2 separate regions of the Homo sapiens genome follow, and region 2 is linked to region 1. The links come from fine-mapping of genetic effects on gene expression. Tissue or cell type: blood mononuclear cells. Region 1 holds a variant in brackets; the other region holds the start of a gene. All regions are shown on one strand. Distances are between the middles of the regions. Region 1 overlaps SHISAL2A (shisa like 2A). Region 2 holds the start of SHISAL2A (shisa like 2A).

What was found. PIP is the estimated chance that this variant, and not a neighbour inherited with it, causes the effect. A credible set is the group of variants that fine-mapping cannot tell apart.
Region 2: it holds the start of SHISAL2A, and the variant in region 1 is the best candidate, but not a certain one, in a credible set for the expression of SHISAL2A in blood mononuclear cells (TOPMed, PIP 0.62).

What each region holds. Positions count from the first base shown.
Region 1 is chr1:52,656,107-52,659,120 of GRCh38, reverse strand. SHISAL2A (shisa like 2A) reads right to left here. Exons shown (of 3, transcript NM_001042693.3): 3 at 2,056-2,331. The coding sequence ends at 2,081. Among named protein-coding and RNA genes, the nearest start is that of SHISAL2A, 24 kb to the right of the region's middle. The variant G/A (reference allele first, on the strand shown) is at 1,529.
Region 2 is chr1:52,631,658-52,634,157 of GRCh38, reverse strand. It overlaps SHISAL2A (shisa like 2A), which reads right to left and starts at 990. Exons shown (of 3, transcript NM_001042693.3): 1 at 483-990. The coding sequence starts at 664. It overlaps LOC124904178 (a long non-coding RNA gene), which reads left to right and starts at 703. Exons shown (of 2, transcript XR_007066084.1): 1 at 703-850. RefSeq lists silencers at 663-712, 723-912, 1,003-1,112.

The sequences.
Region 1 (3,014 bases):
ACTCCAGCCTGGTGACAGAATGAGACTGTCTCAAAAAAAAAATGCTGAAATAAAAGAGCACACACACACACACACACACCACCACCACCACCACCACCAACAACAACAAATGAAGCAAGACCAGAACCAAAATCTCTTGACTTCCAGCCTAGAACACTTCTGTGGGTGACTCACCCTGTCTTGCCACCCCATCATGTACCCTTTGGCTGGCCTCAGGCACAGGTATCTAAGAGTGACTCTTTCACTGTTGCCAAATCCAGCAGCAGGTCATGTCACTGTCTGAAATGTCAAGAGCTGCTTTTGGTGGCTGCTGAGCTGCGTCTCCACAGTCCTTGTCTTGCATTCCGAAGGCGAAGCCTAAAAGCCATCGCCAAAGTTAGGAGAGCAGCCAGGAGGGAGGGCTGACAGTCAGCATCTTGCCCTAAGATTCCTTTGCGATCAGATTAATAATAAGACATGTTAAAAATAATAATAATAGCTAACACATAGTGCTTTCCATTTGCCAACACTTTTCTATGTACTTGCATGGACTTAGTAATTTAGTCCTTCCCCAAGCCCTATTAGAAGATACTACTAAGATTCCAGCTTATATAGATGAGAGGACTGAGGCACAGAGGTTACCTAGCAAGTAAGTGACAGGGGCAGGATTTTAACCAGGCATTTGGCTCCAGAGTTGTTCAGTATTACATAGTTTACTGTTATTGTCCATTTGTAATTTAAAAAGTCTTTTAGCAGGAATACTATGTTATCATCCATTGGTCATTTAAAAAGTCTTTTAACAGGCCAGGTGTGGTGGCTCACATCTGTAATCCCAGCACTTTGGGAGGCCAAGGCAGGCGGATCACTTGAGGTCAGGAGTTCAAGACCAGCCTGGCCAACATGGTGAAACCCCGTCTCCACTAAAAATACAAAAATTAGCCAGGCATGGTGGCACACACCTGTAGTCCCAATTACTTGGGAGGCTGAGGTGGGAGGATCACTTGAACCCGGAAGGCGGAGGTTGCACTGAGCTGAGATCATGCCATTGCACTCTAGCCTAAGTGACAGAGCAAAACTCCGTCTCAAAAAAAAAAAAAGTCTTCTAGTAATTTAATGTTTACGAAGTGAGTTCAAATCCATCACCTCATTGAACACTTGCAATAACCCAGCAAGGGGACTGAGGCTCAGGAAGACAAGGGACTTTATCAAGGCCACACAGTGGCAGAGTCCACCCTCTGGAGCCTGTATTCAGTCTGATAACCATTCATTCATTCATTCATTCTTCTTCTTTTTTTGTGATGAGGTCTTGCCCAGGCTGGAGTGCAGTGGTGTGATCATAGCTCACTGCAGCCTCGACCTCCAGGGCTCAACTGATTCTCCTGCTTCAGCCTCCCAAGTAGCTGCAACTACAGGTATAAGCCACCACATGTGGCTAATTTTTAAATTTTTTGTAGAGTCTGGGTCTCACTGTGTTGCCCAAGCTGGTCTTGAATAAGTGGGCTCAAGTGATCCATCCACCTTGTCCTCCCAAAGCTCTAGGACTACAGGC[G/A]TGAACTGCCGCGCCCTGCCCCTATTCATTCTCTCACTTAGCACTCACTCCTTCATCTACCTAAGAAATAGAATGACGCCTGAGCCCTGTGCACAACATACTCCCTCTCTATCCGTCCCTCTGCAAGGGGCTTACTCCAGGATGGCGCACTCCAGGGTGAGGCAGAGCTGCTGAAGAGGCAGAGATCATCCCCCTCTGAGGGCTAATCATCTTCTCAGGGGCTCCTAAATACACCTACTGTGGGGCAGGAAAACCATGTCAGAGTTCTCTGACTTCCCAGTTGGGTGAGGGGCTCCTCTGTGCCTTCACAGGCCCCAGGCTTCCACCCGATTGCATGGAGTTGTTACTGACCATTTTTCCTAGGAGTCATGTCAAAGTTCTTTGGCCCACAATAGGCCAAGCAGAACAGTATGGCAGGGTCCACAGCAGGGCTGGGTATCTTTGCTGGGAGAAGCCCTCATTTATCATGCTAGGCTCTAAAGTCCTTTCCCACTCCCACCTTTCACTGAAGAGACTCCAGAAGGGGATGGTATGGAGACATTTATTGAATGTTTATGGGACTGGTCCACATAGGTCAGGGTTGGGTACAGAGGCTTCCTCAGGGCTGCCTGGAATGTCACTGGTGGTCACTGTGGCCATGAAGCAATGATGGAGGAGGCGTTTGGAGTTCACAGCCTGCCCCTCATTGCTCTCCAGCTGCGGGTTCAAGCAGGAGTAACTCTGCTGGAGAGGGCTCACTTTTGGCACTTCTGCCGCCATGCCTGTGTTCACACCTTGGCAGTCAGGAGAAACCTCCTCAGGGCCTGGAAAACAGCAAACTGAGGGTGTGTGGCTCTCTTCTTCCCCAACAGGATCACACTCCCCAGCTGACTTCTCTGGTGCTTACCTTGGGCAGTGCACTGTGGTCAGAGCCTTAGAAGCATCATTTGTTTAACATGTATTTATTAACAATACACCACATTATGCACTGAGAGCTGTCAGTGTTGCTCATGAACTTGTAGTTTGGTGGAGGAAACAGATAAGAAACAATTGTTAAGAGCTATGAAGACTTGACCTTCACCATAACCCTATGAGGTAGGTACTATTAGAAATCCATTTTATAGATGAGAACACAGGATTACCATACAGCTAGTATGGAGAAGAGTGGTGGACATTTTTAAAACATAGATTGTTCTCGCTTTGAGAATAGATTCCATGCTTCTCTTTGCTGAGTGACTTATCTTCTCTCTTCCTCTTAAATCAAAGCTTGAAAGGAAGTCCACTTGGCCTTATTATTCTCTACCTTCCATTCATGACTTGTTCAGCTGCAACTTACTTTGTTCTGCCCCCACTATACCTTCAAACTATTTGTCACTAAACCCATAGTCACTTCTAAATCCTTATCTCCCTTATCAGGAACATTTAACATTATTTATTTATTTTAAATTTTACTTTACCAGTTATAGGACTCTGATTCTTTTTTCCTTTTTCTTTTTTTAATCAGGAG
Region 2 (2,500 bases), 25 kb after region 1:
GGAGGTTGGGGCTGGTGATAGAATAAGGTCTGGGGTCAGTACTGGGGAGTGTGGAAAGTCAGGAATAAGGCTGGTGTTGATATTAGGAAGGGCACCTTGGTGGGATGATGATTGGGGTGGAGTTGGGCTGCCTGTGAATGTTTGAAGATGGAAGTTGCTGTTAGGGGGAGGCTTGATATGTGATTTGGGGTTGGGATGAGGGTGGTGATGGAATGAAGTTTGGGGTGGGGATAGAGTGAGGATTGTTTTGGATTAGAGGAGGGGGAGGTCCGAGCATGGCTCTAAATAATGGTTGGGGTCAGGATGAGGAAATCGAGCTGAGATGGGGTTTCACGGGGTGGTTGATGCTGTGGGCATGAGGACGGTAAGGACTAGAGCTTGCTGCTGATGTTCAGGTGGACACTCGGGTGGGGGCTGAGGCTGGGGTGAAGGCGCTGAGACTGGAGTGGGGTTCAAGGTAGGGTGAGGGCCAGGGACGGTACCTGAGCCACCACATGTAGCTGTGCTCGTAGGGGAAGAAGCTGTGCGGGTCGTCGCAGCAGTACTTGTGGTCGCGGAAGCCGCAGCAGAAGACAGCGGCCGCCTCGCCCCCCGGCCGCGGGCAGCTGAAGCCGCGCACCACCTCCTGCTCTGCGCTCACGTAGCTCGTGCAGGCGCCGCTCATCGCGCCCCGCGCCCAGCCCGCCGCCACCTCGGGCCACCAGACGGCCGGCTAGAGCCCGGCGGGGAAGCGAGGGACCGAGCGAGACGGAGCTGAGCCTGAGAACGGCAGAGACGAAGAGACCCAGGGGCCGAGAGAAGCCGAGACAGAGACAGCAGCGCGGGGCCCCGAGGACCGAGCGGCGGCCAGGTGCCCGGCCCGCGCGGAGGGGTAGGGGCAGGCGGGGCGGGCGGCGGGGGCCGGCGGCGGGAGTGACGGCTGCTGGAACGCGGCAGGAGCCGGAGCGGACGCGGGGAGCTGGGCCGGGAGCCGCGTGCTCGCCTGGCTCTGCCTGCGCTTCCTGCCCCCTCCCCACTGCGCTCCCCCTGCCTGCACGAGGGCGCTGGGTGCGCAACGACAGCACGACGCGGCCAGAGTGGCGGGGCGGGAATTCGAGGCCAGGGCGCGGGCGCCTTACCTGCACCGAGCCGGCGCCGGGAGTCTCGGGGCATTCGGGGCTGGGGCAGACAGACAAGGCACCAGCCGGCGACCACACGGCGGGGTCAGTGAGGAGAGTGAACACAACCTCACCCAACCTCCGCAAAAACCCAGGGGCCCGGGGATGTTCGCATCCGTGTTAAAGGTGAGAGCTGAGGGCCAGAGAGAAGCCATTTCCCGGAGTTCCTAAGCCCACGAGATTTTAACCGGGGGCGGCCTAGTAGGAAGTCCTTGCTCTTTCTGCGGCTTTCATGGTGCCTCTTTTCTAGCGGGCTTTTAGATGTCCTCATCATCTGGAGTCCCTGCTAGTCTCGCTGAGAGCTAGCTCGTGCACGGACAATGTCCACACTCTTCTGTTCATACTGCCTGCCACTGGCCTGGGACAAGGAGCCGAATATGGGTGTGGATGGGCCCAGACGGTAACCTCCTTCCCCACACTGACCAGCAAAGAAAGTCAGCAGACCTGTCCATTTTGAAAAATTACTTCCAGAGAACAAGGGCAGTGTTCTCACTAGCATCAGAGAACCACAGTCTGAAGGGGCTCTCAGTGCCTTGGCTTCCCCCATGTACCCTGTTGCCTTACGCCATCTGGAAGGGCTTCATACAGCACCTTCAGTGCCTTAGCTCTACATTTTTCACAGCAGTGGGTAGGGTAGGAAATAGTTACTGTGGTGCCTCGGGCACCCCCGATTCCTTCGCCCTTGGTTTGGACGTGTGGGGAACGGGCCGTGGGTATCAGGGGATCTGGGCTCCAGCCCAGCTCTACCCCTTCCCTGCTGTTTCTCTCTGAGCTTTGGGTTCCTTGTCCTCACCCAGGCCAGCTCCTCAGATGCTGATTGTGCCGCTGCCCTGACCTGGGTGGGCCCTAGGGCCCCTGAGAGGGATCAGATCTGGGCCTGCCGTTGAGAAACACACAGTCTGATGGAGGAGTCAGACTGACTGACGATCACAGCACAGGGCAGTAAAAAGGGAAATGCAAGGACCTGGACACAGAGGGGCACCATCTGAGGAAGCAGGGGAGGGCTCTGAGGGAGGCGGTGTCCTCAAGAGTCACTGTAAGGTCAAATATGAAAGCTGGAGGGAACTGTTATTATCCTCCAGAACATTCCTCCCCTGAGCTGTGGGTCTGAGCAGACTGGGAGCTGGAGAGCCTACACTAATGAGGGTGCACTTCAGCCTCTTTATCAGATGGAGAGTACAGGGGAGGAATCCTCTGGGAGGGAGAGGCTTCCTGGAGGCCTGGAGATCAGCTGGGAGGAAGAAAGCGCTCTGCCCTGGCTTTTGGCAAAACTAGAAAGCCTCCAACAATTTCCAAAACCCTCTCCCAGCCAAGAATTAATTTGTTCCTCCCAACAGCCCTCT